2 linked regions of the Homo sapiens genome follow. The protein of the gene in region 1 purifies or fractionates together with the protein of each later gene. This does not show direct contact. Each region holds a gene or a part of one and is shown on either strand. Other genes may lie near its edges.

Region 1 (2,705 bases):
GCCTGGCCCGATGTCGCCGACCCGGAGCCGGTTGTGCGCCAGGCTGAGCTCCCGCAGTTGGTCCAGGCCGGCCAGAGGCTCGGGCTCGAGCATCCGCAGCTGGTTGCGTTGCAGCTGCAGGGTGCGCAGGCCAGTGGGCAGGCCCATGGGCAGCCGGGTTAGCTGATTCCCTGCCAGGTCGAGGCTGCGCAGGGCACGCAACCGGCGGAAGGCCCGGTGGTGCACACGGGCGCTGGCCAGGCGGTTATAGGCCAGGTTAAGCTCCGTCAGGCCCGGTGTGGCGACCAGGTCACGGGCACCCAGCGCGGCCACGTGGTTGTGGGGCAGCACCAGGGCACGCAGGCGGCGGGGCAGGGCTGGAGGCACGCGGTCCAGCCCATTGCCATAGAGGTGCAGCGTGTGCAGGCCCCGCAGCGGCCGCAGAGCCCCGGCGGGCAGCCCTGAGCTCCCCAGCTGGTTGTGCTGCAGCAACAAATAGCGCAGACCACGCGCCCCGTGCAGCCGAGCCGCCTCCACCTGCCGGATGCGGTTGCGGCCCAGGTGCAGGATAGCCAGGGTCCGGGGCAGGCCGGCGGGCACTGTGGTCAGCTGGTTGTGGGAGAGATCCAGGTATTCAAGGCTATGCAGCTTGCTGGAAGGAGAGAGGGTCGGTGTTAGGTGGGGCACTTGGAGTGGGGTGCCTGACAGATTTTGGCGGGGAGGCTGGGGAGTGGTCCTGAGACAGATTTAAGCTGGAGATTTTGACTTGGGAGTGATGCGTGGAGAGAGCTGGGTGGGAGGTAAACTTGGGGTGCCCAGGGCAGATTCCAGCCTGAGAGTTAGCTATGGGGGTGACCAGGGTAGAGCCGAGATGGAAAGGCATGTGAGACTTACGATGTCAGTGCAGGGCTGTGGGGAACAGGGACACCTACCCAGTGCTCTGCCGAGCCCAGTGAGCAGCAGGCACTCAGTAAATGAGGCCGTGGCTTAGGAGCCAGTCAGGGAAGGGGGACTGAAGGTTGGGACCCCCGACTGTAAATTCTCAGCCCCTGCTGCCCCCCAACCAGCCTGTACCTGAAGGTGGTGGCATCCAGGCCACTGTCTGTCAGCTGGTTGTGCTGGAGGTAGAGCTCACGGAGTTGAGTCTGGCGGCTCAGGGCTCCTCGGGGCACCTTGGAGATGAGATTGTTCTGGAGAAGGAAGAAGAGAATGAGACTTGAGTCTGGGATGAGGGCAGCGGGAAGCCACAGACGGCTCTTGAGTAAGGGAGTGACGAGGAGCTTGCCTTGAGCTCAAAGCGATTTCCAATAAAGTGATTCAAAGAAGGATAACTCTGACCACTGGCATTCTGAGGGGCAATTGAGAAGAATGGAAAGCTAGGAACTGGAGGGGTCCCCCTGGAAAGAGGTGAAGAGAGTCTGGCCCGGGGTGGGACCTACAGCAGGGCTACCTGCAGGTGGAGCCGCTCGAGTGAGGGCGGCAGGCTGGGCGGCAGGTAGCTGAGCTGGTTGTTGGAGAGGCTGAGGGTGGCGATGGCCTCGGAGCCGCGGAAGGCGTCGGGGGGCAGGCCAGCGTTGCTCAGCTGGTTGTTGTGGAGGTACACGGACCTGAGGAGAGCCAGGCTCCGGCCACCAGCCTGCCCCTCGCCTCCTACCACCCCACTCCCGCACCACACCCTGCTCAGGGTCGCCTTCAGTGTGTGTGTGTGTGTGTGTGTGTGTGTGCGCGCGCATGTGTGGAGTCTGTGTGGGAATGTAATTGTGTATGTGTGCATGTGACTGTGCGTAGGTGTGCAGGTGAGTGTGCATGTGTGTTGTATGAATAGACGTGTGTGCATGTGTGAGCAGTGTGCATGTGTAAGTGTAATGAGTGCATATGTGGAGTGTGTGTGCACGTGTGTATGTGATTGTAAGAGTGTGTGGGCGTGCATGTGTGTATGTATATGCAAGTGTGTGCTATGTGCCTGTGCATAAGTGTGCATGGGTGAGTGTGTGCATGTGATTGTAAGTGTGGGTGTGCATGTGTGCATGCCTGTGCATAAGTGTGCATGTGATTGTGTGTGTGCAGCCGAGTGTGCAACTGTGTGTATGCATGTATGTCCATGTGTGCATGTGATCATGTGCAAAAGTGTGAGCATTGTGTACATATGTGCATGTGTGTGCTTGTGTGTGCATGTGATTGCGTGTGCATGCATGAGTGTGTGCCTGTGTGCATGTGGTTGGAAGTGTGTGCAGGTGTGTATGTGAGTCTGTGTGTGTGCTTGTGTGTGCATGTGATTGTGTGTGCATGAGCATGTGTTCATGTGGTTGTGTGTGCAGGTGTGTATGTGAGTCTGTGTAAGTGTGTGTGTGTGTGTGTCCCTGCACATACTGTCTCCACCTCAGTCTGGAGTTCTGACACAGCATACAGGGCCCTGTCTCCCCGCTCACTCTCCTCCCAGGGTAGAACTATGCCCTCTTCCCACTCCCCAAGGCTAGGGATCTGTCCCTGGTTAAGCCCTCCAGGGCAAGGCATTTTGTTTCTGTTTTTGTTTTTAATTTTGAGACAGAGTCTCACTCTGTCGCCCAGGCTTGAGTGCGGTGGCACGATTTCGTCTCACTGCAAACTCCACCTCCTGGGTTCAAGCCAGTCTCCTGCCTCAGCCTCCTGAGTGGCGGGGATTACAGGCGCACACCACCACCCCCAGCTAATTTTTGTATTTTAAGTAGAGACAGGGTTTCATCATG
Region 2 (3,840 bases), on another chromosome or scaffold:
AACAACTGATTCAGCCCAAAGTTTTGTATAATGCACAGCACATCTCCTGATGTTTGGGATGTAAAACATTGGCTTGGTGAAATTAGATTAAAATTAAACCATGATAAGTGGAAATATGTAATTTCAAATGGTTTAACAAGAATAGTAACACTTTTGAAATACACTTGTATATAGACATGGCCAATGATAATTATGGAATACTGAAAGTAATGTGTTAATAGCATAACTCTACATTCGGACAGTTATATGGATAGTAGTGTGAGAAAGATAGAGAGTTTCTCAGTAACAGTCTCTTCAAGTGGTTTCTTAAATGTTTTTACTAGAGTGGCAAAGATGGGATAGAAAAGTTCTTTACTCAATTTTTGAAAATTGATTGTCTGAATCCCCACATTTGTAAGGTTTTATAGGAAAACAAAAGTTATAACTTGAAGATATTCAGTAAGGAAACTGACCACTTAACATTAGTCACCACATATCCTTTCCTGCTTAATGTTGCCATGTATCCCCACTCATGTCAACAATAGAGATTGCTAAATAGTACTTTGGCCAATATAATGCAAATATAATACAGATTGGTTTCAAAATGGAATTTAAAATTTTGAAAAACATAGAGAATTTCATGAAATTGATAAAAATAGTAAGAGGACTATTCAATCATATGCAGAGCCACAAAGTGAGGCCACTTAATAACTGAAGAATAGAAAATCAGGGAGGATTATTATAGGATAAGCTCTTCAGAGAATAATTTTAATATAAAATTTTTTAATAGAACTTGGAGGTAGAGGAATACATGAAACATTCAAATAAAATTACCCTCTTTATGATAAATATGGTAATAACAACCTAGAAGTGAAAAATATATCACACTTAAATATAATTTTTGTCAAGACATTTTAGCTCACCCAAGTGAAAACTCAGTTCAGTCTAAGAATTAGAATATAGTTATGACTATTGACTAAATTTTGTTAAATGTAATATGAAATAAACTTGTTTTCATTTCTTTTTTCAAGATAAAGTTCTAATGAAATCTTTTTTTTTCTGCTGTTTATCATTTAGTTTGAGGTAGAATCACTTAAAATAGACTTTTTCAGGCAATTTAGTGTGGTAGTAAGAAAGCTAACTCGAGCAAAAAACTGAGTTGCAGTCTAATCTACTACTTAATACTTAGGTGCCATTAGGCAAGTTATTTTACATTTTATTATTCACCTGTAAAAGGAATAATAATGGTCCTTATTTTATAGAGTTATGATGATTAATTGATCTAATACATAAAAATCACTTAAGATAGTGCTTGGCACATAGTACACAAAGAAGTCATTTTTTGATGTATTAATTGTCTTTGGATATAGACAGTTAAATTATCATTATCTTGTCTTTGTTTTCCATTTTTCTGAGCTCAGTTTTTATTGAGAAGCCCGAGGCCTTAACATCCTCATTTTCAGCTTTCAAAATCAAAAACAGTGTTATACCAAAAATACTAGGAATTAACTAGGAGAAAGTTTTAAAAACTGTGTTCTCTAAGTCTATAATAAAATGTTAGTAAACTGTATACATTTTTCTGTTTTTATCTCTGAAAAAAATTCAGTACCTGTGCTTATTTTTAAAAATTACTATTTTAATGTTCTCAGGCACATATCTGGCTCAGACCTCTTTCTCAGTGCAAGTTACATCTATAACCATTATTGTGACTGCAAAGACCAACATTATTACCTTTCTGGGGATAAAATCAATGATGTGATCTGCCTTCCAGTGGAAAGATTATCTCGTATCACACCTGTATTGGCCTGCCAGGACAGAGTGCTCAGAGTTTTACAGGTTGCTGTTATTTGTATTTTTCTAATTTTTTATATTATGTGAAAGAATATCAATGAACATTATGTACTTGAGATAAATTAGTGGTTACTGTTTTAAGGGCTTTTATAAACATGTGGAAACAATTTTTAAATAATTTGACATATTAATTTTTTTAACTTGAGTCAAATGTGTTGTTTTGTAAGTTTTTAAGAGAAGCATATTTGGAAGAAAAAGGATTTTTTTTGCCTCACCATACACAATTTCTGAGCTATTATCAGAATGGAGTACTTTGACTACAGAGAACCTTTACCTGCCTTTTTGTTTTGTTTTCTTCTTCCATCACCTTTATCTTCCCCAAAAATCAAATTAAAGGAAGAAATTGGGTTGGAGGGAGGATGTTATATAACTTGAGTTTATCCAGTGTTTATGGAAGTATATGGAATAAGCACTCAGTAAATATATGTTGGATAAGTAAATGAGTGATAGAGGGAAAATTCATTTTGATGTCCTTATATTTCTGGTAAAAACCACGATTGGCTAAAACAACTGCTTCAGGTCATTGTTATGAGTAATAATAGTTACCACTATATCTTCTTGAGAGTGACTTTCAATAAAATATATGCACACACACACACACACACACTCTATAGGATGCTTAAAATAATGTTTAAAGGTAAATAGCATGTAACAGTTAGATGAACTGTATCAGAAACAGGCTGATATAGTTGGTGCAGTTGATGAAAAAGTTGAGCTGTGAAGTCCATGCCACCACAGGCTATCTCACTCTTTGGAATTCCATAGTCAGATGGCCATTTCTTGGCATCAGCCCTTTTGTAAAAGGAAAAATCCAGTGAGTCTATGAGGTTTTTACCCCCCAGGGACAAAGTAATGTTAAAGGTTCATTTTAGGCCAGGCATGGTGGCTCACACCTGTAATTCCAGCACTTTTGGAGGCTGAGACGGGAAGATCATTTGAGGCCAGGAGTTTGAGACCAGCCTGGCCAACATGGTGAAACCCTGTCTCTACTAAAAATACAAAATTAGCTGGGTGCAGTAGCACACACCTGTAATCCCAGTTACTCAGGAGGCTGAAGCACAAGAATCACTCGAACCCAGGAGGCGGAGGTTGCGGTGAGCTGAAATTGCATCACTGCACTCCAGCCTGGGCAACAGAGGGAGACTCCATCTCAAAAAAAAAAAAAAAAGAAAAGAAAAAAGGTTCATTTTAGAGTTATGAATGATTAATTTCCCCCATAGCCTATGCTTTTAAATATGAATTGTTTTGAACAAGGCTTTTAACAGGAGCTGTTTAGCATTCAATTAGAAATTGACTGAATTCTAGGATTCTGCTTTGACAAGAGATCCATATGCTTATTATTTTTAAAATAATTACTAAAGATCTGTAGAAAATAAAGTTGAAGTCTTTCCCTCTGCACCGCATGCTTTTTTCTCACTCCCCGTCTATCTCTGTGAATAATCCATTACTCCAGAGGTTGCCTCTTTTTAACAGTTTTGTGTATATTCTTTTGTGTTTATATAGTTACGTGTAGATATCTGTAAATTTTAATATGATATTTTAAATAAAAGATAAAACAGGCTGGGCACAGCGGCTCAGGCCTATTACCCCAGCACTTTGGGAGGCCGAGGTTGGAGGATCACTTGACTCCAGGAATTCAAGACCAGCCTGGGCAACATAGCGAGACCCCCATCTCTTAAAAAAAATTTAGCTGGGCATGGTGGTGCATGCCAGTAGTCCCAGCTACTCAGGAAGCTGAGGTGGGAACATCATTTGAGCCCAGAAGGTCGAGGCTGCGGTAAGCTATGATCACACCACTGCACTGCACTCCAGCCTGGATGACAGAGTCAGATCCTGGCTCAAAAAAAAAAAAAAAGATAAAGCATATGGCTTTCTTACGTTTTCTAAATAAACATTAAACTTTTTTTAGTCCTGATGTGGTGGCTCACGCCTGTAATCCCAGCACTGTGGGAGGCTGAGGCAGATGGATCACCTGAGGTCAGGAGTTCAAGACCAGTCTGGCCAACATGG

The links.
Region 2: the proteins of PODNL1 (region 1) and BBS7 purify together in Homo sapiens (co-immunoprecipitation; one large-scale study listed by IntAct). This does not show direct contact.

What each region holds. Positions count from the first base shown.
Region 1 is NC_000019.10:13,932,825-13,935,529, forward strand, and holds part of PODNL1 (podocan-like protein 1 isoform 4 precursor), read right to left. Parts: intron 1,587-2,705; coding exon 1,430-1,586; coding exon of another isoform or gene 1,419-1,429; intron 1,170-1,418; coding exon 1,054-1,169; intron 632-1,053; coding exon 1-631.
Region 2 is NC_000004.12:121,856,967-121,860,806, reverse strand, and holds part of BBS7 (BBSome complex member BBS7), read left to right. Parts: intron 1-1,628; coding exon 1,629-1,815; intron 1,816-3,840.